Linked DNA regions of Homo sapiens. The protein of the gene in region 4 interacts with the protein of the main gene of each other region in a pairwise test. Each region holds a gene or a part of one and is shown on either strand. Other genes may lie near its edges. The genes, in order: WFDC12, GUCA2A, CXorf66 and ASPH.

What was found.
Region 1: the proteins of ASPH (region 4) and WFDC12 interact in binary tests that used the Homo sapiens proteins (3 or more experiments, as listed by UniProt).
Region 2: the proteins of ASPH (region 4) and GUCA2A interact in binary tests that used the Homo sapiens proteins (3 or more experiments, as listed by UniProt).
Region 3: the proteins of ASPH (region 4) and CXorf66 interact in binary tests that used the Homo sapiens proteins (3 or more experiments, as listed by UniProt).

The regions. Positions count from the first base shown.
Region 1 is NC_000020.11:45,122,904-45,129,348, forward strand, and holds WFDC12 (WAP four-disulfide core domain protein 12 precursor), read right to left. Parts: upstream 1,563-6,445; 5' UTR 1,545-1,562; coding exon 1,466-1,544; intron 1,363-1,465; coding exon 1,204-1,362; intron 1,041-1,203; coding exon 943-1,040; 3' UTR 522-942; downstream 1-521. UniProt on the Homo sapiens protein: Antibacterial protein. Putative acid-stable proteinase inhibitor.
Region 2 is NC_000001.11:42,162,179-42,168,925, forward strand, and holds GUCA2A (guanylin precursor), read right to left. Parts: upstream 2,568-6,747; 5' UTR 2,535-2,567; coding exon 2,460-2,534; intron 1,433-2,459; coding exon 1,225-1,432; intron 793-1,224; coding exon 728-792; 3' UTR 512-727; downstream 1-511.
Region 3 is NC_000023.11:139,962,516-139,970,007, reverse strand, and holds the start of CXorf66 (uncharacterized protein CXorf66 precursor), read left to right. Parts: upstream 1-4,486; 5' UTR 4,487-4,511; coding exon 4,512-4,599; intron 4,600-7,492.
Region 4 is NC_000008.11:61,704,575-61,711,605, reverse strand, and holds part of ASPH (aspartyl/asparaginyl beta-hydroxylase), read left to right. Parts: intron 1-7,031.

The DNA.
Region 1 (6,445 bases), on a different chromosome or scaffold from region 4:
TTTAGCATTGTGGAGACAGATTAATGTGTTTTCGGTGTGTACCTGAATCCTCAAGTTGTAAACTTGTGTTTTCCCTCTTACAAACTGTAAATATACCACAGGGTGATGAAATGGCACCCTGTAAATATTCAGAAGCCATGGATAATCATTGCCAGAATCAATTATTTCATTAGGGTTTGCAAAACCCAGTGGGTTTTAATTTTAATTATATTTCAGGTATAAATTATGCTGACCAAGGTGAACACTTTGAGGAGGCTTCCTGCTTGGGGAAGAGCATATCTTTTAAAAAACATTTATTTATTTATTCTGTAGAAAAGTTTAGTCTATTTATCCAGATCTTTTAAAATGTCATTTAATAAAGTTTTAGGGTTTCCTTTCAGAAAATTTCTGTACATCTCTAGATTTATTTGTAGGTATTTTATATTTTATTCACTTTGATAATGTTGAATAGGATTTTTTTTTTTTACTATTAGGTTGTCTTAGCAGGTTTGGGCTGCTATAACAAATTACCATAGACTGGGTGGATTATAAACAGCAAATATTTATTTCTTACAGTTCTAGAGGCTGGGAAGTCCAAGATCAAGGCACCAGCAGATTCAGCATCTGGTGAGGACCAGTTTCTCTTCTCTGACAGTGCCTTCTAGCTGTGATCACACATTGCAGAAGGGCAAGGCAGCTCTTTGGGGTCTCTTATAAGGGCACTGGTTTCATTCATGAGGGGTCCATTCATGAGCATTAGGGAGGAGCACCAGGTAGAGAGGGAAAGTACCGTCCCTGGGGTCTGGACTTTTTGTGACTCTTCCCTCTTTTTGGGGAAAAGGACTTCAAGCTCAGGTTTTCTTTGGTGGGGTTGGGTATTGCTTCTTCCATATTCCAAGTCTCAGGACCCTCAGGGGCAGGTGCCAAGTGAGAGTGACCCCCAGAGGTAGAAAGGACCCAGCATCATTTCTGAGGACACCTGGTAGAGGAGGAGCCTGGACACTTGGCCTCCCATCCTGGCTCAGGGTATGGCCTTGACACATCTTCATCCTTGTTTCCTCCTTTGGACAATGGAGATGTTCAGACTAGGTGGTCTCTGAGGGCCCTGCCAGCTTTAGCCATCCCTCCCCACACCAGCTAAAGGGACTAATTCCTCCGAACTTTCATGGGTCAGATAGAGGCAGGGAAGGGACAGCCCCAGCCCTGGGAGGCAGGTCTCCTTACCTTCTTCCAGTTCCTTCACAGGAATCACACACTTGAAGCCACAGTGCAGGTAACAACACTTCCTTTCCCCCAGACAGTCCTGGTCTGTGTGACACTGGGGAGGATCGGACTTGAAGCAGCGTACGTTGTCAGCTGGGCAAACCCCTGCTTTCTCTATACCTAGTGGAGGAAGCCACAAGGTGATATGAGAACTCCAGCCCCAGAGGGCCCCTCAGGACCTCTCCCCAGCCCAGCCCCACCCAGCTCCACCATGTCTGCTCACCCTCTTTAACTCCTTCCACAGCCACCAGGGTCACAAGAACGAGAGACACCATGAGGACCAAGAAGCTGCTGGACCCCATGTTGCCAGGCAGGTGCTTGGCTGGGAGCTGGGCTGAGCCTGGCTTTATAGTGTTCCTGCTGGGCATGCCAGTGGGTGGAGCTGAAGGCTCAAAATGGCAAGGGAGGCTGCACTTCCCAGCTCTATTTGGAAATGGCCCCTTCTGAGGAGGGACTTGGGGCTTTCCCTAAGGCTCTGCACTGGAATAGATGAAGAAATCCAAGAGCGACCCTCGTTCTTCACACGAGGAGAAGAAATGGACACGTGATTGACCATTAGGCGCCACCAGGGCCAAACTATCTTATGGAAGGAGGAAAAGAAGCACAGAAAGGGCATGAAATTACTCAAGTTCACACACGAGGCAGTGGCAGGGCCAGACTTCCTCAACTCCACCGTGTTCTCTATCAGTCCCTCTTCATGCCTGATTCACCTGGGACCAAAATCTTCCCTCCTTCCTGTGCTGCCCCGGACTTGTTCTCAGTTCTCACCTCACCCCAAGGAAGAATCTGAATGGCAGTGCTTAAAATGTCTGTCCTGAACATTCACTCTCAGCCTTGCGCTCCAGCACCGTGTGCTCCTGCCCCCCGCCAATCTCATGTGGCCTGGAGGAAAGCAGATTTTGGACCTGTCACCAGCTGTGTGACTTTGAAAGCAGCTTCACCTTTCTAAGCCTCCGTTTCCTCATTCATACAATGAGCATAATAATTATACTGTATCATCTTCATAGGATTTGTTTTCCCTCCTCTGCCCCTGCATCCCCCAAATTCCTGGATTTGGAAGAAGACATGGACGTGTGTGCGTGTGTGTGTGTGTGTGTGTGTGTGTGTGTGTGTGACCAGGCTTTTGGGGTCCTTTCTTTGAATGAGTACTAAAGGGAGGAAAATCCTTCCTGTTGGAAAAGTTGCAGATATAAGCCCAGAAACTCCAGAAATTTGGTCCTGGCCCTGGTGAGAGAGAAATTCTGAGAAGATAAATCTAAGATGCTGATAAAAAGAGATGAGAGATGGACAGGGAGTAATTTAGAGGATATCTAGTCCTTCACTAAACTTTTTCCTGAGATCAGCCCCACTCATACCCAGGGTTATGTTACCACCCAATACATTCACCTTTCTGCCTAAGCTGGTCTGAATTGGATTTCTGTCATTTACTAACAGGACCCCTGAGTAATGCAAAGATTTGGGTTTGGGGTGTTCCACATCCTGAAGTGTGGAAGGGACTGAGTTGGGGTTAAGTGGAGGCAGGGAGGATACCTCCATTCCTGGAAGTGAGCCTACTCCTTATTAGGTGGTGAATCTTTGGTTACAATCTCACCAGTCATATCACTGGACTCAGATCATTTGGATACCAGGGATGGAATCTGGGAAGTTCATAAACAAATACTAGAATGTTGGAATGTATTGGCTATTTCCTCCTCCACCTTTTTATTATGAACTTTTTAAACATACAGAAAAATTGAAATAACAGAACAATGATACTTGTATACCTACAACTGGATTTAACAATTATTAATAGTTTGGGATATTTTAGAATACCTATAGCTACATTTGTTGAAATATTTGAAATGAAATTGAATACATTATGTTCCTATTTCCTAAATACATCAGCATGCAAATTCTAAGAATAAGGATATTCTTCAATATAATCACAAAGCCATTATCATATCTAAGATAATTAATAGTTTCTGCATGTCATCTCATAGCCAGTTCATATTTGTTTCTCCGGTTCTCCCCAAAATGTCATTTGTAATTGACTGTTGATGATACTTCTTTAAAAAAAGTATTGTAAAATAAATCCTACATATGAAAGAATGTAATCAACATTCTATACCTTTTGAAAAAGAATAATAAACACCTATGAACCTATCAATTTAGAATAGGACATTACCATCCCTACTTCAGAGGTAACCACTATCTTGAACTTTCTGTTAATCATCCTCATGTTTTCCTTTAAAGTTTTGCTCTCTTGCTATGGCTTGCTTAGTGATACGTGTTGTTTAATTTCGTGTAAGCGTAATTATGGCCTAAGTATTCTTTTGTATTTTGCATGCTTTGCTCAACACCGTGTTTTTTTAAAAAATTGTGGTAAGAAATATATACTATAAGACATGACCTCTTAACATATTTTTAAGTGCATACTAACAGTATTGTTAATTGTGGGCACAGTGTCATACAGTAGGTCTCTAGAACTTTTTCATCTTGCATGACTGAAACCCACTGAATAGCAACTCCCTATTCCCCCCACCCCCAGACCCTTGGAACCACCATTCTGTTTTCTGCTTCTATAAGTGACTACTTTAGACACTTCATAAAAGTGGAATTATGCCATATTTGTCCTTTTGTGACTGGCTTATTTTGCTTAGCATAATGTCCTTGAGGTTCACCCATGTTGTAGCATGAGATAGACTTTTCTTCTTTTTTATGGCTGAATAATATTCCATGGTATGCATATATATGTACATGTATATAATCTTTTTCCTTCCCTCATTTATCTGTCAATGGGTCAATGCACATTTAGGTTTCCATTTCTTGGCTATTGTGAATATTGCAGCAATGAACTTGCAGGTGCAAATATCTCTTTGGGATCCTGATTTAAATTCTTTTGGATAAATACCCAGAAGGGGGATTGCTGGATCATGTGATAGCTCTATTTTTAATTTTTTGAAGAACTTCCATACTGTTTTCCGTAGTGGCTATACTCCTTTAAATTCTCACTGACAGTGCACAAGGGTTCCAAATTCTCCACATTCTCACCGGTACTTGTTTTCTTTTTCTTTTCTTTTTAAAATAAAAGCCATCCTAACAGGTATGAGGTGATCTTATGGTTTGATTTTCATTTTCCTGATGATTAGACATGTTGAGTATCTTTTCACATACCTGTTGGCCATTTGTATATCTTCTTTGGAGAAATGTCTGTTTAAGTCTTATTCACTTTTAATTGGGTCTTTATATTTATATGTGTGTGTATATATATATATATATGCATATGTACACACACATATATATAATGAAAAAGAAAAGAAATAAGTATTAGAATGGGAGACGAGAAAAGCCATTGTTTGCAAATGATGCAATAATAAAAACACAAAAGAAACTACAGATACATCATGAGTTAGACAATTTTTCAAGATTAGCTGACACAAAAATCAATATATAAAAGTCAGCTGCTTTCTATACACTAGAAATATTGGTTAGAAAAATGTAATACGTTAAAAGCAATAACATGTAAAATATTTAGTAATAAAGGCAACCTGTGAGATGGGAAAAATATTTGCAAACTACCTACCAGATAAGGGGTTAATTTTCAAAATATATAAAGAACTGCAACTCAATAGCAAAAATATGTTTACATATATATATACATATATACATAGCAAAAATATGTTTATATATGTATATATATAAATACATTTAGGCTTACATTTAGGTTTCCTAGAAACCTAGACTGTCTAGGAAGCAAGCCCCATAAGGAACTTCTCATATTCATATTATAAGAAGGTAAAATTGCAGGGGACAATGTTCCTGTTTTGTAGTAGTAAACTACCTTCTCAAAAGGTGGTTATTTTGTCCCCAGGGGACTTTGGCAATGTCTGGAGACATATTTGATTGTCACAACTGGGACAGATGTGCTTCTCACATCCAGTGTCTAGAGGCTGAGGTTGCTGCTAAATATCTAACAATGCACAAGACAGCTTTTCACAACAAACAATGATCTGTCTCCAAGTGCCAATAGTATTGATGTTGAGAAACGCTGCTGTCCTGCCTCACTGACTAATAGCTGTGCATGGCCTCAGAACACCTCAATGTAGGCTGAAGCGAGTAATGATGGGAGTGTCTGCTGGGAGTATCCCATGCTTAGGAGTGCTGATCCTTGGCTCACTGGTTTCACCCAGTAAAGGCATTCCTTAGCCCATGCCATGTGACCTTGTGGAATTCATCCCATGTTCTGCTGAATCAGGTTAATAAAGTTCCCTTTTAATTCTAGTTAGCTAAGAGTTTTTCTCATGAAAGGATGTTGAATTTTTATCAAATGCCTTTTCTTCATCAATTGAAATAAATATATGGATTGTCTCTTCAATCTGTTATTTTGTGAATTACATTAACCAGATTTCACATTCATTGTCTTTTTTGGGCATCATTTATTTATGTGCTTCAAGAAAGTGGAAAGCCTTGAACCAAAATGGCGGAGTCTAAGACAGGGAATGAAAGGGAAGATATATTTCTCATAAACGTGGAATATATATTCCTGAAAATCATTAGGTTACAGAGTTTTGCTCACTACAAATAATAGGGCTTCTGGAAAAAATAGAGTTGAAGTAGAACATTCAATATTTGTGCAGTCTCATAAGTAATACATCAAACAAACAGAACCCACACCCAATAAAAACATGACCACAGTGTTAAACATCTTCAGTTCCTAATAAAGAAATTATGTAGTAAATGTAGCACTTTACTTTGACAAAAGATGGGGAGTTTGCTTGGTAAGTGGGTATGGTGAAATACTGTGGCTTTTGAGGTATGTACAAAAGGTGGAATGAAGGACATCATCATTCTTGGGACTAAATGTTGTTATACTGGAGGGTCATTGTCGTCAATCTTTTACTTCTGTACTGGCTTAAAACAGCAATCCGCTTCGTTGATTTGCCAGTTCCTCCCTTTTGTAAGGAAGCTGTATAACTCTAAATGAAACTGGATAACTGCAAAGTTCTATGCTGATGCTCTTGACATTAAAATCTTGATCTTTGGCTGGGCGTGGTGGCTCACGCCTGTACTCCCAGAACTTTGGGAGGCCAAGCCGGGCGGATCACTTGAGGTCAGGAGTTCAAGACAAGCCAGCCAACATGGTGAAACACTGTCTCCACTGAAAATACAAAAATTAGCTGGGTGTGGTAGTACATGCCTGTAATCCCAGCTACTTGGGAGGCTG
Region 2 (6,747 bases), on a different chromosome or scaffold from region 4:
CTTGAGGAGAGGCCGTGGAATGAAAGCCTTGGACCCTGAGTAGGAGTTTGCCTGGACAGTAGTGTGGGAAGACGGGCAGTGGAGAGGTGAGCAGCAGCAGAGGAAATGGCAAGAGGTGTGGTTTGGGATGTGGTCAGGGCTGGAGGCCACACTAGCATGGCTGGTGGGAGCCAAGTCCTTGAATACCCAAGAGTTTGGTGCCAGTCTTCTAGTGGGCCAAGTGCCTGTATTGGTTGTCCAAACCAGCTCAGACTGGCTCCCGTGCTCACATGTGGCTCAGTGAACTTGGTGACCTCAGGAGATGTGAAATAAAAGCAAACCCTCCCCACCACCCGCTGCCTTGGTGGTTTGGAGATCCAGATCCTCTCCACGCCTCTGTGTTGTGGCAGCCCCAGGGACAGTGAGCAGCTTAGCAGGGAGAGTGGGGTCCTTCGCTTAGTACATTACATCCCGAGCTTCCAGGGCAGGATAGACTAGGGGATGAAGGAAGGAAGGAAGGCAACACCCAGAGTACTCTGGAATCTGGTTTATTAGCTGGGGGTTGAAGTGGCAGGGAAGGACAGTGTTGGGGCGAGGCCTCCAGTCACCCAGTTCCTCCCCGGGCTGCTCCTCCCGACTGGACCAGGGTAGGTTGAGCTGCTGGGAGTGGAGTATCATGGGTGGCCCTTTCTGCAGGAGAAAAGAGCTTCCCTGCTGCGGAGGGGAGGCAGGCAGTGGGCAAGCCCCCCTAGCATCCGGTACAGGCAGCGTAGGCACAGATTTCACATGTGCCCGGGTCCTCAGCGATTTCCTCTGCACAACAGAGATGGAGCCTCGTGAGAACCAGCATTTCCTCGCGAGGCCCCTGCCGCCCTTGGCCCAGAGCTTGTACGTCACCACCCAGCCCCAGGAGAATCTCAGCAGGCCCGTACTCTGACCTACTGGGCTTTTCGCCCCAAACCAGGGCACACAGACCACTCAAACCAACCAATCAAAGCAGAGATTCCACCAGAAAGAGAGGAAACTAAGACCAGATGAATGGTCTTAGTTCCCAAACCTCAGCAGTTACAACTTGGAATTGAAGTGGGCATGGAACAGACCCACCAATCAGAGCCAAGCTCCCTAGTTCCACCAGTCAGAGCTGAGCCCTTCCTCCAAATCCCACCAATCAGAGCACATCTCTTCCTCAAGTGCCACCACAGTATTCCCGAACCCCACCAATCAGAGAGGAAGGAGGCTGCTCACCCAGCCTCTGAAGTATCTCCTGGGCATTGGGCTCCTTGCAGAGAGGCTTGAGTTCTTCTGGAAAGTTCGGGTTGCTACAGAGGATGGGAACCACAGGTTCACCAGGGATGGGTGCAAAGTTCCTGAGTTTCCCAACCCTGGGCTCCTGGGGCTCCTGGAGGTCTTTGAGCTTCTTCACTGACTCCAGAGAAAAGGAGAAATTTCCATCCTGGAAGAGAGAAGCCCAGAGCATGAGGCCAGGCTGCAGCCTGCTTCCTGGCTGTGCCCCCCGTGCTGGCCCCGGTCCAGCCCAGTGGTGCTCACAGGCAGTGTTCGTGGCATATGGGAGCCAGGCGATCCACAGTGGGGCACTGTGAGGGGCAGAGTTCAGGCCCCACGTCCTGGCTTGGCTCCGTGATGCTGGACACTCTGGAACCCGCAAATTCTGCATGTTGTATGGGGAATGGAGAAAATGGGTGTGAAGCTCCAGGAACACCATAGGTGCCTAATGAGTAGGAGCCAGTGTGCTGATTTTTAGGGAGAGGCAAAGGACCAGCACCCAGGCATCGTAGTTCCACGTGGCCAAGCCCAGGCTGTCTTTCCCCTGCCTGAGAGCGGTGCGGCTGATTACTGGGCCCCCAGCTCCAGCCTGCAGCCTGGTTTTGGTTTGAGAAGCAATAAAAGGCCTCCCGGAATCTGGCTTTGATAGAGATCAGGGCCCCCGCTAGGTGCCAGCTTGGCCTGTCGCCAGCATTGGCACTGGTAGGCATACCCATCTGTCAGGACCTCCAGGGTGTCCATGTGGTTCCTGGGACCCACTGAGGAGTAAGGTCTGGATTTAAATCCAGCTCCTGCACTTCCCACAGCCATGTGCCCATGGCCTGTTACAGAACCTTTGTGAGGCTCAGTTTTCCCCTCTGTAAAATGGGACTAATGATCCCTTTCTTCCAGGTTGATAGTGGAGCCACAGTGAGGGGCTGGGGAAGGAGCCGGCACATAGGACACTCAGTAAATTGGCCAACTCCCCGCCTTCCCCATATGGTTATTCCTCTTCCCTCCACTGGGTTTCTTTCTCCTCCAAAGTTGAAGGGAAAGGTGTGTGTGTGGCTGGACTGAGCAGGAGCTCCTCGAAGAAGGCCAAGCCTGGGACACACACCCTCAATCCAGCCCCAAAGAGGAGGTACTCTCTCAGGGGACCAGACCTGGGCACTAGGGGCAGGGAGCCAGCTGGGCCGGGGTAGGGACACAGGACTCACCTGCACGGTGACCCCTCCTGCCAAGGCGGCCCAGGCCCCAAGGAGGCACAGTGCGGAGAGCAGGAAGGCATTCATGGCAGCAGTGCCCGAGAGAGGGGTGGCTGTTCTGGATGCCAGGGGGAAGCGGCGGGACTTTTAAAGAGGGCAGGTTACTGAGTAACCTGGAAGCCTCTGTCAGTCTCATCTGCTCACCTGTCAGGCCTTATCAGATAAGGCTCGAGACAGCCCTAGGAGATAAGAGCCAGGCAGGGGGGGCCCCGGCCCCTCCCTGAGCACCTACTTTGACCCACAGCCGGGCTGGGTCCTGCATTCATTCACCAACAAGGCACATTCACTCACGACTGCCCTGTGCTGCTGTGTGGGGCCGGCAGACCCTGCCCTTGAGGAGGGGGGCCCAGCCCGACAGTGAAACGCAGGGCGATTAGGGTGGGGTGATCCTAGGATGAGGTGACGGGGCTGCACTGGGGGCTGAGCTCTGGAGAATGGGTGGAAGTTTTCCCAGAGAAGGGACTGAGGACAGAAGGCCATTTCATGCCAAAGGGACAGCCAGGAGGTGAGACGGGCCTGGAATATTCAGGGAAATGTGAGAAATTCCACGGGGGAGGCTGCAGGGCAAGTCAGGGTCTGGGTTTGATTGCCGCGACCTCAAGGAAGCCCTCCGCACAGCCTGGGTTCCGTTCCACCTACTGCCCAGTTGTGAGGCGTGTGAACTTGGGCCAATGCTTTCCCCTCTCTGAGTCTCGTTGTCCCTTGTGTCCCCTGTGGGAACCAAAAATAATACCTACCTCATGGGGTAGGTGTGTGGTAGGCATTACTGTTTGGAGAATCAAGTGAGGTTTTAAAAACATTTAGCTCAATGCCTGGCACACAGAAGGTGCTCAGCAGAGGTCCATTCCCATATTATTAGCAGCCACAGCAGCTCCTGGTCCTCCCTGGCCCCTCTGGTGACCTCCTGCCTGTCTGAGTCACAGGCTGTCCCCATCCTGTGCTGGTCCCCATCCTGTCCTGCCTGCCCTGCAGCCTCAGGGTGTCCTCGAATGAGCTCCTCCCCAATCCGCCCGCCCCCCTTGCCCCTGCAGATACAGTCCCCTTTCCGCGGATCTCACTGGGGAATTGCTTGGGTGTGCCCGCGCCCCTATAGACTCTGACCCCATTCAGACTGCGCCCTCAGGGCAGCGTGCATTCACTGTGTGCTGTTGTGAGCAGGAATCCCCAGGACACAGGAGAAAGGGTAGCCCTGGGATTGTCATCTTTCTACTCAGCCAACCTGGCCCGATGCCAGGACAGCCCTAGGGCGGGAGGTTGGGCAGGAATTCCTGGGTGGGGAGAGTCAACACTGAAGAGGGAATTGGAGAGAGCAGGGCCTGACCAGGAGGGAACTGCAGGGACAAGGCCCTCAGGGAGGGGCAGGTAGCTCCTGGCCCAGCTCCCAGGGCAGTCCTCACAGCTGCACTGGATTTCCCACCCCTTTCTGGTGAGTGTGTGTGTGTGTGTGTGTGTGTGTGTGTTAAGGGGGGGTGTGTCTGCGGAGATGTGTATGTCTGTGTATGCCAAGGTGTCTGTATATACCCTGATGGGTGTGTGTAGCCAAGGTGTGTTTGTATGTGTGCTTGTGCTGAAGGTGTGTGTGTGCTGAGGCATGTGTGTACACTGAGGAGTGTATGTGTATATATGCTGAGGTGTATGTGTGTGTATGCTGAGGGGTATATGTGTGTCCGTGTACACCAAGGTATCTGTGTCTGTGCAAGGAGGTGTGCATATATACATCGAGGTGTGTGTGTGTCAGTGTGTATATACACAGGCGCGTGTGTGTACACCGAGGTGTGTGTGTTTGCTGGGATGTGTGTCTGCTGGGGTGTCTGCTGGGGTGTGTGTATGTGCACTGAGGTATGTGTGTGTGTATGCTCATGTGTGTATATGCACTGAGATATGTGTGTGTATGTGCACTGAGGTGTGTGTGTGTATGCTGAGCTGAGTGCATCTGCTGTGTTGTGCGTGTGTGTGCCGAGGTGTGTGTATACACTGAGGTGCATGTATGCGCTGAGGTGTGTGTGTGCTGACGTGTGTGAGTGCTGACGTGTGTGTATACACTGAGGTGCGTATGTGTGCTGAGGTGCGTATGTGTGCTGAGGTGTGTGTGTGCTGACGTGTGTGTATACACTGAGGTGTGTGTGTGTGCTGAGGTGTGTGTGTGTGCTGAGCTGTGTGTGTGCTGATGTGTGTGTATACACTGAGGTGTGTGTGAGTGCTGATGTGTGTGTATACACTGAGGAGCGTGTGTGTGCTGAGGTATGTGTGCGCTGATGTGTGTGTATACACTGAGGTGCGTGTGTGTGCTGAGGTGTGTGTGTGCTGACATGTGTGTATACACTGAGGTGCGTGTATGTGCTGAGGTGTGTGAGTGCTGACGTGTGTGTATACACTGAGGTGTGTGTGCGCTGACGTGTGTGTATACACTGAGGTGTGTGTGCTGACGTGTGTATACACTGTGTGTGTGCTGAGGTGTGTGTGTGTGCTGAGCTGTGTGTGTGCTGATGTGTGTGTATACACTGAGGTGTGTGTGAGTGCTGACATGTGTGTATACACTGAGGAGCGTGTGTGTGCTGAGGTATGTGTGCGCTGATGTGTGTGTATACACTGAGGTGCGTGTGTGTGCTGAGGTGTGTGTGTGCTGACATGTGTGTATACACTGAGGTGCGTGTATGTGCTGAGGTGTGTGAGTGCTGACGTGTGTGTATACACTGAGGTGTGTGTGCGCTGACGTGTGTGTATACACTGAGGTGTGTGTGCTGACGTGTGTATACACTGTGTGTGTGCTGAGGTGTGTGTGTGCTGACGTGTGTGTATACACTGAGGTGCGTGTGTGCTGAAGTGTGTGTATACACTGAGGTGTGCGTGAGTGCTGACGTGTGTGTATACACTGAGGTGTGTGTGAGTGCTGACGTGTGTGTGTGCACTGACGTGTGTGTGTGCTGACGTGTGTGTATACACTGAGGTGTGTGTGCGTGCCTGGACATGTGTGTGTGCCCACCAAGGTCAGCCACACACTGGTCCCCTCGCTGAGGGCAGGTGGGAGTGGGCGTGGGAGTGAGTGGGGTTAGGGGAAGGAATGGGGCTGAGGGTCGGGGCGTGGGACTTGGATGCTGAGCAACAGGATGTCGGGGGATGGAGCTGGGGGAAAGGTGAGGGGCAGGAGTTTCGGAGGCTGGGGTGGGGATGAACACCGGGAGAAGTTCGGGAGTGCGGCTGAGCTCCATGCTAGACTGGAGCCGGGGCTTGCGGAGACCGGAGCGGGGTTGGGATTGGGGTCAATTCGGGCGACACTAAAGTTGGTTTGGATTAGGGTCAGGTTGAGATGGAGCTGAGGTTGGGCAGGGGTAAATTAGAGTTAGGTGTGGAGCCGAGGGCGCAGTCCAGATTGAACTGATGTGGTGCTTGTAACTGACGTGGAGGCTGGTTTGGGCTAGGTTAGGGCTCATTGGCAGGACTGGGATTGGAGTTGAGTTTGCAGCAGAGATTGGAGGTGTGACTGGGTTAGGTTTATGATGGGGGTGGGTCTGGCTTAAGTGTGACGCTACAGCTGGGTTGGGATTTGACTTTCAGTTAAGGATGGGGCTTAGGTGGGGCCACCAGGCTGAGGACCTGTTTTTTCTGACTCATTTTGGTCTTTCCCCTCCCAAGCTGTGGCAGGAATGGGGGTAAAGGGCAGGGGCTTTCATCCCTGAGCCTCTTTCTCCCACAGCCCCCCTGGCCAAGGCTTGCCTGCTATAAGGCAGGGATGGAATGGAGTGGGTTCAGGAGTGACATCACTCCACACTGTGGGAAAGAGGAAGTGACTCCTAGGCCATGGCCCTTAGGGTCCTCCCCTACCCAACTCCACCTCTGACCTCTACCCTGGGAAATGGGAACCAACTCCCCTTCCCTTGTTCCCCAAGCCCCTCTGCCTAGTCTGGCCCCAGCCGTGAGTTCAGGCCCCCTCCCCTCTGAACCTCCAGGGTGCTCAGGACCTCTGCAGCCTGCTCTGAAGCTGCTGGAAGTTGGATCTTGGGCTCTTCCCAGAACTCCAAGCTTCCTGCCTCCCACCCCAGCCTACACCCTGAGTCCTCAGGCCCTGGTCCCCAGCACCCCCACATCCCTCATTCTTCCATATGGGCAGAAGGAGGGTCTGAGGCTGTTTGGGTTTCCCACACTCCAAGACTGCCTTTTCTGGCAAACTCTTGCTCCTAATAGCCTTCCAGGCCATGCCACCTGTCCTGCCTGCCTCCCCCTCTGAAAACCCATCAGTGGC
Region 3 (7,492 bases), on a different chromosome or scaffold from region 4:
TCTTTATGTCACTTTTATTCTTTGTTTATTTATTTTGAGACAGAGTCTCACTCTGTGGCCTAGGCTGGAGTGCAGTGGCGTGATCTCGGCTCACTGCAACCTCTGCCTCCTGGGTTCAAACAATTCTCCAACCTCAGCCTCCCAAGTAGCTGGGATTATAGGTGTGTGCTACCATGCCCAGCTAATTTTTGTATTTTTAGTAGAGACGGGGTTTCACCATTTTGGCCAGGCTAGTCTCGGACTCCTGAACTCAAGAGATATGCCCGCCTCAGCCTCCCAAAGTGCTGGGATTACAGGCATGAGCCACCACACCCAGCCACTTTCATCCTTTCTAATTAGCTTACTCCTGCCATCAGGGGCTGTGTCACAGGTACCTTTGGACATCTTTTCCAGGTTTACTGCGCTGGTGGTAAGGGAATTTCTCAGCCCAGATTGTTTGAAAAATCTTTGGGGAAAACTTCTGATTAGCCTGTCCTGAGTCACATGCCCAACTATAAACCAATCACTATGGTTAGAGATGGGAACCGATTACTGGTCTAGCCTGAGCCACATGCTCACCCTTGTGGCCAGGAGAGAGGGATACTATAATTGTTAGTTCTTATCAAGACCATTTGGTTGAGGTGGAAAGAAGTGGTTTTCCAAAATGATAGATTTCCTGCCCCCAAGAAGATAAAACAATTCATTATGTCTGTGAAAAAGAGAAGGAAGGACTGTAAAGTTCCATATATATGTATATATGATCAACCCTATTGATTATATTTTATGTTATTTACATATTCTACCTCCTTAATAATTTTGTGTCCACTTGATTTATCTTGAGCTGAAAGTTGTGTAGTATAACTTTGCTTCTATCTATTTGTTCTTATATCTCTTCTACTTTTTGTTTCATAAAGTTAAACACTAGAGTTGATTGGCAACCACTCACTTTCCATTTGGGGACTCTTCTGCTTCTCTTTCTGGCCCCCATTCTCAAATTCCCTTCAGTCCCTGACTCCTGATATTAACAACATAGGTATTATCTGCTGGCCTACTTTATCAACTCTCTAAAAGTGGGTACTATACCCAATAATAATAACATTTCTTGACCACTTATTTTATTTTATTTTATTCTATTTTATTTTTTTTGAGATGGAGTTTTGCTTTTGTTGCCCAGGCTGGAGTGCAATAGCGCGATCTCGGCTCACTGCAACCTCCGCCTCCTGGGTTCAAGCGATTCTCCTGCCTCAGCCTCCCGAGTAGCTGGGACTACAGGTGCCTGCCACCACACCTGGCTAATCTTTGTATTTTTAGTAGAGACGGGGTTTCACCATGCTGGCCAGGCTGGTCTCAAACTCCTGACCTCAGGTGATCCACTCTCCTTGGCCTCCCAAAGTGCTGGGATTACAGGCGTGAGCCACCGTGCCCAGCCACATGTGACTTTTTTTTTTTTTTTTTTTTACAAGGAAATGGTTTAAGCATTAGTTGTGTATTTTTTTTAAATATTTTTATTGCAGAAAATTAATATAACATAAAATTTACTATTTTAACCATTTCTGAGTGTACACTTCAGTGACATCAAGCAGATTCACATTGCTGTACAGTCATCATCACATCCATATCCAGAAGTTTTCCACCATCCCAAACTGTACCTCTGTCCCCATTAAACAATAATTCCCCGTTCCCCACTCTACCCAGCCCCTGGTAACCACCATTCTACTTTCTGTCTCTATGAATTTGACCACTCTAAGTACCCCATATAAGTGGAATCATATAATATGTGGCTTATTTCTTAGCATAATGTTTTCAGGGTTCATTCATGTTGTATTATATATTGGAATTCCCTTCCTTTTTAAGGCTAAATATTGTTCCGTTGTATGCATATACCGCATTTTGTTTACCCATTTATCTGTTGATGGACATTTAGGTTGTTTCCACCTTTTGGCTATTGCGAATAATACTGCTATGAATATCAGCATATGAATAGTTGTGTGATTTTTTTAAATCCTGAAAAGGAATATTTATAGAATGTTCCCATTTATATGTAGTATGGGTGTGCATCATGTACATAGATATGTATGTAAATATGTAGAAAGAGATCTGAGAGATGCACATCAAATTTTTGTGTCATTGTCTCCAGAATGGGGATAGAGTGGAGTGGGGAAGGAAAAGAGTCTATAACGTTTTATTCTGTATATGTCTGTCTTGTGTATTTTTCATAATGAGAATGGGTTAATATTAATATATTCCTAATGCAATTTTAAAGTGCAATTAAAAATAGAGATGAAGATTTCAGGCATCTTCACAAGCTGTGAGTAAGGAATATTTAAAGCAATTTTAAAGGGGTCAGAAGATCTCAAGGGATAAAGGAAGTCTGAAATACCTCTGTGTGATTTAAAATTTTTATAAGGTGCATATATTTTTTTAATTAAAAAAAATCAAATAAGGGGAAAAAGTTGAAGGCCCAAGGCGGAATTGCACTGTCAATTGAGGTCCAGAGGAGGGCAGTAGAAATCCCCAAGGTGGCAACCCCAGAAAGGTTCCTCTCACCCGGATGAGGGCAAAGGTTCAAACTTGCCATGTGGGTGCTGGGAAGAGCTTAGGAGCTTTTCCTACTACTGATTCCTATAGATATGACGCCAGCCAGACATTGGAAGCAAGACAATCAAATATAATGGCGGAAATCAGAAAAGTGGTACAGGTTAATCTCTGGAGAACCAAGGAGAGAGAAACCAGGAGCAGCCATTCTTCACCAAGAATCATTACACAAGGGCCCAGGAGCAGCTCTCTGGGGAAAATGACCTAGTGAGATTTTTAGGGGTCTTGGGGACACAGCCCTGTTAAGTACCTGGCTAAGTCCTTGGACCCTTCCCCTCTGCTTTTTAAAGTGGAAAAGAATAAATATGGCCCTGCAGGCTCAAGATACAGAGCTGGGATTAGGGTGAGGGGAGTGGGACAGGCTCATGCAAATGCAGAATCAGATCCTGTCTTTATTTAAATGTTCAATATTTTGTTGGTCATAGATTTTTGGCATTAATTTTGGTTTTTAAATATCACGTTAAAATCTTATTTGATTACTGAATTTTGCAACACCCCTTAAATTTTGTGCTACAGGCAAATATCTCACTGGGTTTTACTCTAGTCCTGGCAACAATCAAAACAATAACAACAACAAATATGAAGCAAGAAATGGGGTTTTATAGTGTACTTATTATATACAATTTTTATCAAAATAATACCTAGAATTTCTGAGTGAAATCTATTATTACTAACATGCTAGTCATGTAAACTTGCAAATGAAATAAAAATCATATAAATCTATGTTAAAGCCAAAGAAAGTAAAGTGTTTTTGTAACCATTATGAATATGAAGTTAATGTTCAAATTAATTTGGAAGCTGTTTCTGAAATACTGGCTTTAAGATATTTGTCTACCATGTATCCAACACTAGGGAAAAAAAAAAACCTGATTTCTTTTTTTAAAAAAGGTGACAGATACATTCTTTCACTTTATAAGCCCTATTCAAATTTTCAAAAGCAGCTTATTCAAAAGCAATAGAATAACATTTTCTGATTTTTATACAGTTAAAAAGTATGAGCAGGATTATTTAGACCTTCAGGGTAAAACTGAGTTGTATTTTTTTTTTTTTGGTTTTTTATTTTTTTTAAGATGGAGTCTTGCTCTGTCACCCAGGCTGCAGTGCAGTGGCGCCATCTAGGCTCACTGCAACCTCTGCCTCCTGGGTTCAAGTGATTGTCTTGTGTTAGCCTCCTGAGTAGCTGGGATTACAGGTGCCTGCCACTACGCCCGGCTAATTTTTGTATTTTTTTTTTTATGGTAGAGAGGGGGTTTCACAATATTGGCCAGGCTGGGGGTTTTCCAATTAATGTTTAATTTTATTATATTCCAATGGCCCCAAATGCATAATTTCAAACACTGTCACCTTTATAGGACATGTTCTTTCATTTCTTTTTTACTCTTTATTTTATTTTTTTTGAGACAGAGTCTTGCTCTGTCGCCCAGGCTGGAGTGCAGTGGCGCAATCTCGGCTCACTGCAACCTCCACCTCCCAGGTTTAAGTGATTCTCCTGCCTCAGCCTCCCAAGTGGCTGGGATTACAGGTGCCCACCACCATGCCCAGCTATTTTTGCATTTTAATAGAGACAGGGTTTTACCGTGTTGGCCAGGCTGGTCTTGAACTCCTGACCTCAAGTGATCCGCCCACCTCCGCCTCCGAAAGTGCTGGGATTACAGCTGTGAGCCACCGTGCCTTGAACCCGGGAGGTGGAGGTTGCAGAGAGCCAAGATGATGCCATTGCACTCCAGCCTGAGCCAAACTCCGTCTCAAAAAAAAAAAAAAAAAAAAAAGTCATTTGGTAAAATTTGTATACAGAAGCTTATGCTTCCCTATGGTGAGATTATGTTGTCAGAGTATGACACACAATGGTAATGATGTCATAAATGCCTAGAACACTCTGAACTGTATAAATTCAGTAGTTACCTTAGTAGACAAATCATTTGAACCAAGTTGCGGACATGAATCTTGTTATTTGTGTCCTACTTTTGTCCATTTGGAAAAATAATTGCATGACTACAAACCAAACCAATGGATCTTCTACTACAGGTAGGTGCCTAACCTTAAAACTTGTAAATTATGATCTGTTACAGTATACATTAAAGTATTTAATTAGAAACGCCAGCTGTATTTAAGAAATCTGCTGTTACTTTTAGCAGTGTTAACATTAGTAGGTCTTCAAGAATTTCTAATACAACAGCTGATATTAAAAAACTTAAGCAAAATATAAGCATCAAGATGACAGACTTATGGTCCTCCTTTACCACCCTTCCCCACTCAATATACCAACCTGTCCCCACCAAACTAGCTAATACTATATAAATGAATCTGGCAAGGGACTTAACATACAGTAGGGGTTTATTTTTGTTTTTTGTTTTTTTTACTTCAAGTTCTGGGATACATGTGCAGAACGTGCAGGTTTGTTACATAGGTATACATGTGCCATGGTGGTTTGCTGCACCTGTCAACCCATTATCTAGGTTTTAAGCCCCACATGCATTAGGTATTTGTCCTAATCCTCTCCCTCCCCTTGCCCCCAACCCCCACAACAGGCCCCAGTGTGTGATGTTCCTCTCCCTGTGTCCATGTGTTCTCATTGTTCAACTCCCACTTATGAGTGAGAAAATGAAGTGTTTGGTTTTCTGTTCCTCTGTTAGTTTGCTGAGAATGATGGTTTCCAGCTTTACCCATGTCCCTGCACAGGACATGAACTCATTCTTTTTTATGGCTGCATAGTATTCCATGGTGTATATGTGCCACATTTTCTTAAACCAGTCTATCATTGATGGGCATTTGGGTTGGTTCCAGGTCTTTGCTATTGTAAATAGTGCTGCAATAAACATACGTGTGTATGCGTCTTTACAGTAGAATGATTTATAATCCTTTGGGTATATATCCAGTAATGGGATTGCTGGGTCAAATGGTATTTCTGGTTCTAGATCCTTGAGGGATTGCCACACTGTCTTCCACAGTGGTTGAACTAATTTACACTCCAACCAACAGTGTAAAAGCGTTCCTATTTCTCCTCCCCTCATCAGCATCTGTTGTTTCCAGACTTTTTAATGATCACCATTTTAACTGGCATGAGATGGTATCTCATTGTGGTTTTGATTTGCATTTCTCTAATGACCAGTGATGATGAGCTTTTTTTCATATGTTTGTTGACCACATAAATGTCTTCTTTTGAGAAGTGTCTGTTCGTATCCTTCGCCAACTTTTTGATGGGGGTGTTTGTTTTTTCTTGTAAATTTGTTTAAGTTCCTTATAGATTCTGGATATTAGCCCTTTCTCAGATGGATAGATTGTAAAAATTTTCTCCCATTCTGTAGGTTGCGTGTTTACTCTGATGATAGTTTCTTTTGCTGTGCAGAAGCTCTTTAGTTTAATTAGATTCCATTTGTCAATTTTGGCTTTTGTTGCCATTGCTTTTGGTGTTTTAGTCATGAAGCCTTTGCCCATGCCTATGTCCTGAATGGTATTGCCTAGGTTTTCTTCTAGGGTTTTTATGGTTTTAGGTTTTACATTGAAGTCTTTAATCCATCTTGAGTTAATTTTTGAATAAGGTGTAAAAAAGGGATCCAGTTTCTGTTTTCTGCACATGGCTAGCCAGTTTTGTCAGCACCGTTTATTAAATAGGGAATCCTTTCCCCATTACTTGTTTTTGTCAGGTTTGTCAAAGATCAGATGGCTTTAAATGTGTGGTGTCATTTCTGAGGCCTCTGTTTTGTTCCTTTGGTCTATGTATCTGTTTTGGTACCAGCACCATACTGTTTTGGTTACTGTAGCCTTGTAGTATAGTTTGAAGTAAGGTAGAGTGATGCCTCCAGCTTTGTTCTTTTTGCTTAGGATTGTCTTTGCTATACAGACTCTTTTTTGGTTCCATATGAGATTTAAAGTAGTTTTTTCTAATTCTGTGAAGAAAGTCAGTGGTAGCTTGATGGGAATAGCATTGAATCTATAAATTACTTCAGGCAGTATGGCCATTTTCACGATATTGATTCTTCCTATCCATGAGCATGGAATGTTTTTCCATTTGTTTGTGACCTCTCTTATTTCCTTGAGCAGTGGTTTGTAGTTCTCCTTGAAGAGTTCCTTCACATCTCTTGTAAGTTGTATTCCTAGGTATTTTATTCTCTTTGTAGTAATTGTGAATGGGAGTTCACTTATGATTTGGCTCTCTGCTTATCTATTATTGATGTATAGGAATCCTTGTGATTTTTGGACATTGATTTTGTATCCTGAGACTTTGCTGAATTTGTTTATCAGCTTAAGGAGATTTTGGGCTAAGATGATGGGATTTTCTAAATATACAATCATGTCATCTGCAAACAGAGACAATTTGACTTTCTTTCTATTTGAATACGCTTTTATTTCTGGCCCGATTGCCCTGGCCAGAAGTTCCAATACTATGTTGAATAGGAGTGGTGAGAGGGCATCCTTGTCTTGTGCAGGTTTTCAAAGGGGATGCTTCCAGCTTTTGCCCATTCAGTATGATATTGGCTATGGGTTTGTCATAAATAGCTCTTATTATTTTGAGATATGTTCCATCAATACCTAGTTTATTGAGAGTTTTTAGCATGAAGGGGTGTTGAATTTTATCAAAGGCCTTTGCTGCATCTATTGAGATAATCATGTGGCTTTTGTAATTGGTTCTGTTTATGTGATGGATTACATTTATTGATTTACGTTTGTTGAACCAGCCTTGCATCCCAGGGATGAAGCCGACTTGATGGTGGTGGATAAGCTGTTTGATGTGCTGCTGGATTCGGTTTGCCAGTATTTTATTGAGAATTTTAGCATCAATGTTCATCAGGGATATTGACCTGAAATTTTCTTTTTTTGTTGTGTCTCTGCCAGGTTTTCATATCAGGATGACGCCGGCCTCATAAAACGAGTTAGGGAGGAGTCCCTCTTTTTCTATTATTTAAAATAGTTTCAGAAG
Region 4 (7,031 bases):
GAAGCTGGAATTTGGGGAATTTATATCACAGATTTTTAAAGCAAGTGTCTGCTTTTTATTTTCTTCAGCTTAAGCTGAAAAATGATAAAATGGTTTTCTACAGAGTTCAATTTTACTTTTTTTTCAGTTTTACTCTTTATAATATAAAAGAAACATGAATAAATTAGACTTCCTACCTTTATTTTGCATATAGAACTGGACTTGCATGGCCAGTTGGGCCCAGGGGAAGCCTTTTTCAAATTTATTGATTTGAAAATAGTTTGACAAAGAAGGATCATGATGTCCTTTTGGGCTTATTTTGTAGACACTCGTATGTGTAATGTTTTCTGTTTGTTTGTTTAGTTTTTCCCTTTTGAGTATCACCCCTTAACTCCCTGTATCTCCTAGCAGCTTTCCATCTCCCTGTTTATTTTGTCTGGGTGTCCTGCTACTACATTAACTTTTGCCACTAGGTGTCACTGTAGAATATATCCCCCTTTTAGTTTGAAGCTTGGGGTTATGTAACAGCAGGTTTTAATTATTATTTAATCCGTCTGTATATACTCAAAACTATTGATAGATAAGCACTTAAAAACTCTTAGCTACTTTTTAACTCTCTCAAGGTGTCTCAGTAGATTGAGCAGCCTTTTTGTTTAGGCTTAATTAGAATGAAATATATTCCTGTACTGCCTGTAAAACATTAACAGCTTCATTTGATGAGTATTTGTCATTTAGAAACACACTTCTGAGTTTAGTTTAGCTTCCTTTTTCTTTCTACTTTGAGTGTCTCTTAGATTACTAAGTAACTGAGGGATTCAATACACTGCTGATTGCATTGTGGAGCCCTTGAATGAAGAGGCCCTAGCAAAATTTTCTTTCTTTAGCCAAAGACCATCAGAGCCAATTGCTTAATCCTCCATTACTCATTCTAAGATGAAAACATAGGAGGACCATAATTCTTCCACTGCAAGAACCGTCAGCTATTTTGTGTTCAGTTCAACAGCATTTTGTCCATCCTGACCAAATCATATGAAACCAAGCACTAAATAATGTTCTGAGGGAGTTTATGAACACATTTTCCAGAGACCAGTTAACCTCTGGTGGTCTGTGGAAGTGAAAGTTCTATATTTTGGACTATATTTTAGTCTTGCTTTAAAATAATCTGTCTCATAGAGATTATTAGAAAATGAATGTATGACATTTTCATTTTCAGCCAGTTATCAACAGAGGAACTTGGATAAAGGCTCATAGGGTCTATCCATCTTGTTGTTAGTTAATATCAGATACTTAGCCCCTGAGCTCTCTGGTTCCAATAGAAAAACCCTTTTCTCCAGAAAGCTAGTGCAGTTTGGGAGAAGGAATATGATGACCTGGATCATATCTGTGTAAGAATCAGAACCAAGAATCGCTAAAAATCTCTGTTCCCAGCCTCCTTAAATGTAAAGAATTATTATCTACTTTCTTTTCAGAGTTTTGATATCACTAATGCTGATTTCATATGGCTTTGTGTTTCTCAGTTGTTTCCGTTAAAGTACGTCTAATAGTAGGGGTGAGTGCAAAACTTTGGAGACTATAAAAGTGTAGATGTCATCAGGCCATTGCATGCTTTGACTTTTTTGATGATTTATTCTTATTTATTTATTTATTTTCATGTTCCATAGCATCTTTGTGTTAAGTAAAATGTATATTCTTGAGATAGAGTTTATACTATGCTTTGAGGACTGCTCGATACATTTCTCTCAGCTTCTGGAGGTGTAAGTATCCATTTGCACATCAACTTTCAAGTTGGTGATTTGCCCTTAATGGCTCAGAAATCTGTAACATTATTTTATCTTACCCAGGCTCAGATATATTTAGTCTTTTGAGGTAACTCCAGCCACTGTTTTAATATCATGAAAATATGCAGCTTAGTTTGTGGCTTGGATACTTCCATATCACCTCTAAATGGCTTGACTTCATTCTGTACCAAGGTACAAAAATGTTTTTCAAATGAACTTCTCTTTAATAAACCCTGTATGTACATATAACCTATGTACACCCCACCTAAACCTCCGGGGAAAAGCCTCAGCCATCTATCGGGAAATGTGGAGGTGCAAGGGCTGCTTGCTTCATTATCTGCTGCCAGTGTCTGCTCTGCACTGCACATGTGGGTGTGATGAGTTTCTCTGGTTCGGTCCTGCAGCTCTGGCCATTTTTATTAGAGGACTAAGGATTCAGGATGTTCTTTTCTTCCCTGTGTACCACTGTGGGAGTATAGTCTGGAGGCCAGTGCTTTAACTTTTTTTTAATTATACTTTCTTCTGGTACTGCTGGGAGCCAAGATGGTATTTTCTTGTTAGTCATTATTTTTAAAATTTTAGTATTTTATTCCCCTGATGTGAGGGATGCTTCAGGCTTTTGTCCTGCATTTGATCTTTGTTTTTCAGGGATGTGTCTTGGTTACCTTTGGCTGATGTGGTTATCTTTTAACGGCAAATCACTGAATGTAATTCAGTTCCTATCAAATTGGCCACAGCTGAGGACAAATTTGGTTTAGATAACCTATTAGACTCAAAGGAAATGTTGAGCTCCCTTGGTGAATAACTCTTTTTAAAAAGAAAATCATCTTTTGAAGGATCTGGGCTATTCGGCCCCCTGTGAGATTCAGGTCACTTGCCTAGTCATGTGACTGTCATCATCTGCCGTAGATACTATGTGTGCTCCAGAGCGGAGAGCATTGGTGAATTGACTTGGTTGAGGGGTGGGGGGCTGGGGGGTGGGAGTGGTTGCTGTCCAGTTATAGTCAGGTTTCCAAGGGCAGCCACTATCTCTGTACTTGGAGAAATGCCAGCACTTCTCTCCTACATGTGTGCCCACACGTTGAACCCAGTGACTCATCCTGTACTTAAGACCCCAAGGATCAGTCTTAAATTTAAAGTAGGAGAATATCCTTTGATAATTTTATTTCACAACCAGCATTGTTGTAACTGCCTTTTCTCATATTTTACATAGGTTTGACAGCCATTTCTACCATTCCATAGTGCAGAGTCACTATTATTTTGTTGTTCTATCCTGTCTGTAACTTCTTTTTCTTATTTATTATTCTTCTAATATACAGTTTTTGTCCCTATCTTTCACAGGCTGCTTTCAATTTCAATTTTCTTGGTATACTGGAAAGACTCTTTTGGTCTTAGTTTCACTTGTAAATTTTATTTAGGACACTTAATTTTTTGACTTACATAAACCTCAAAATCTGTGTTGTAAATATTTGTTGAAAGAATATCTAGCATTTAACTACTTTTCCATTCTTTGAATCAAGTCAATTTGTATAAGATGCTTGTCACTGAGTTTTTGTAAGTTGTTTCATGGATTTGCTTTTTGGCAGAGAGCTAGTTCTCTAACCTTTATAATAAAAATATTTCTGTGTATTGCTCTTTAAAATTGTATGTATTTGAAATAGTACATATTTAAGCCTATAAATAATTGTAGAGAGTAATGCAGTGGATGCCCATGTACTGACCATATAGGCGAAGAAATGAAACATTATCAGATTCCTAGATTTTCCTCTCCTGTGGTATTCCTTCCTAACCATTGTTAAACATTTTATGGTAGTCATTATCATAAATACAGGTATATATGCACAAAATAATATATAACATGTAGCACATACACATTATGTATCCACACATGTAAACTGTATCTATTATTAAATCAATGTATTTGAAAACTGCCCAGGAAGTATATCTATATCCCTATGTGTAGAAATATACCTATACACACACACACATATATGTATATATACTGTATAGCACGTATTAAAAGTTTTGTGAACAGGCTTCTACTTGGCATACTATTTTGACAGCATTTGTTTGAAATTCCTCCAAACTCCAGTTCTTTATTTTCACATATGTAGTTCTACACCATATGAATATGCCTTGCTTTTCATTTAGCCATCCTATCGCAGGCCACTTTTTTTCTTTCAAATAATGCTGCCCTGTACATGTATGTGCCTATCTCTCCCCATGCATACATGTCTGAGTGTTTTTCTAGGGCATAATCTGGAATTGGAATTGTGGGTCATAGAAAGTACACACATTAGACTTTACTGGATATTGCCATTTTTTAACCCCCAAGTGGTTGTATCAACTTACAGTTCTGCCCCTAATGAATAAGAGCTTGTTCTGTGCCATCATCACATTGTCAACATTTGGTGAAGTTTAATATTTGCCAGTTGAGTGGCTGTGAAGTAGTACTTGAGGGTTTAAACTTGCATTTTTCTAATTACTAGTGAAGTTACTGGTAAGAGTAGCCTTGTGTTTCCTCCTTTGAATTGCCTGTTCGTATATCTTGCCTATTCTTCTGTTTTTGTTTTGTATTTGTAGTATTGATAGGTAGATTTTTTTTTTTTAATATCCTGAACCTTTTGATTATTTTTGATAAAGGACTTCTCCTAGTCTGTGTTTACTCACATTTTCATTTTTTATGGTATACGTTGTTGAACAGAATTTTAAGATTTTAATATATTAATAGAATTTTTCCATTTTGTACTTTGTGGTTCACACCTTTATACTTTTTGTAAGACACATAACACAGATGTTATGAATTATTCTTGTATTTTCCTCTAAAAGATCTGAAACGTTGCTTTTTTACATTTAGATCTCTGAACCACCTGGTGTAGCATTTTATTGTATATTTTGTTATTAGGGATCTAATTCAGTATTGTTTTTTAAAAAGGGCCAATGAGAATGTCCTGTACTGTTAGTTGATTTGTCATCTTTTTACCGTAGTCTGCAGCATCACCTCTTGTGTATGAATACGTCGGGCTCTATTTTGTTCCAGGCATGTAGAAGCAACACCAAACTGAATTGCTCACTATAGCTTTGTAATGAGTCCACATATCTGATAGGGCATGTCCTTCTACCCTGCCTTTTTCACTATTGTGTTTGCTGCTTTGGGACCTTTCCTCATCCATTTCTCTAGATTTTAGAATCTGCTTATCAAATATGTTCATGAAAAATATTTGAGAATTTTTACTGGCATTGTATTGAATCTATAGAACAATTTGGGACAAATACAGATGTTTATAATACTGAATCTTCTTATACATGCACCTGGCCGGCTGGCCTGCTTTCTCTTCTTTCTTCTTTCTTTTTTCTTCTTTCTTCTTTCTTCTTCTTCTTCCTCTTCCTCCTTCTTCTTCTTCTTCTTCTTCTTCTTCTTTTTTTTTTTTTTTTTTTTTTTTTGAGTCATGACCTCGCTCTTTCACCCAGGCTGCAGTGCTGTGGCAGCCTTGACTTCCCAGGCTCCGGTGATCCTCCGACCTCAGCCTCCCTGGTAGCTGGGACTACAGGCATGCACCACCATGCCTGGCTAATTTTCTTATTTCTTGTACAGATGGGGTTTTGCCGTGTTGGCCTGTCTGCTCTCAAACTCCTGGGCTCAAGTGGTCTGCTCATCTCGACTTCCCAAAGTGCTGGGATTACAGGTGTGAGCCCTGCACCTGGCCTATAATTTCTTATGTATTTAAGTCTGACAATTTTTATAATCTTATTTGAAAGTCATATACATCTTTTATTAGATTAAGTCTGGGTACTTTGTATTTTAAAAAACATTTTCAATAGTATTTTTAAATTAACATTTTTTAATGAAACTTAAAAAATATGTATCCAAATTGAAAGAGTTCTGTAATGACTCCACCATGTAGATGCTACAGCGGTTAACATTTTGATAGATTTGCTTTGTCATGTCTATTAGTCAATCTTATTCTTTCATGCCTTTCGAAGTAAGTTGCAGGTATTAGTATATTTCACTTTCATAAACATTTACATGTGCCTGTAGCTAACTAGAGCTTAGCATTTGTTTTTTTTTCCCTCTGAGGTAAAATTTTCACGTAGTGAATTGCACAAATTTTAGTGTCTGATCTGAGGAGTTTTTATATCCATTTCTACCTTTGTAAAACAATAACCTATTAGGATAGAGAATATTTTCATCACCCTGTAAAGTTCTCTCAAGCCCCTTTCTTGCGTCCACCTCTGCCACCAGAGGCAGCCATTGTACTACATTTTTTGATCATAGATTAGTGTTTTCTATTCTAGAACTTCTTTTGCAAGTACTTTTTTTTGTAAAGTCTCCTTTCACTCAGCATAATATTTTTTAGTTCGTTTATGTTGTGTACACGGTCACTTGTTCCTTTTTATTGTCAAATAGTATTCCAGTGTCTGACTATAGCACAATTTTTTTTAAGCTTTTATTTTAGGTTCAGGGGTACATATACAGGTTTGTTATATGGGTAAATTGCATGTCACAGGGGTTTGGTGTACAGATAATTTTGTCACACAGGTAATAAGCTTAATACCTGCTGAGTAGCTTTTTTGATCTGCACCTTCCTCCCACCCTCCACCCTCAAGTAGGCCCCAGTGTCTGTTGTTCCCTTCTTTGTGTCCGTAGGTAGTCAATGTTTTGCTCCCACTTATAAATATTAATAAGAACATGGTTCTCTGTTCCTGTGTCAGTTTGCTTAGGATAGTGGCCTCCAGCTCCATTCGTGTTGTATAGCACAGTTTTTTAACCCCATCTTTTATTGGTGGACACTTGGGCTAGTTTTGGGTTATTATGAATAAAATTCTATGAATATTATAGAAGCCTTTTTTGACATATGTTTTTATTTCTCTTGAGCAAGAGAGGGATTACTGGGCTATAGGGTAGGTGTATGTTTAGTTTTATTAAGAAACTGTTCAACTCTTTTGCAGAGTAGTTGTACAATATATTTTATACTCCCACTAACCATGTGTGGAATTGGTTGTTCTACATATGTACCAACATTTGGTGGTGTCAGTCTTTTTAATTTTAGCCATTCTGGTGGGTATGCCGTGGCTTCTTACTGTAGTTTACATTTGCAATTCCCTGATGAATAATGATGTCAAGCACTTTTTCTTGTGCTTATTGGCTACACCCATTATCTTTAGTGAAGTTTCTTTTTTGCCCATTTCTAATTTTATTGTTTTTTGTTGCTGAGCGGTAATTCTTTATGTATTCTGGATAGAAGTTCTTTTCAGATATATATAGCACATATT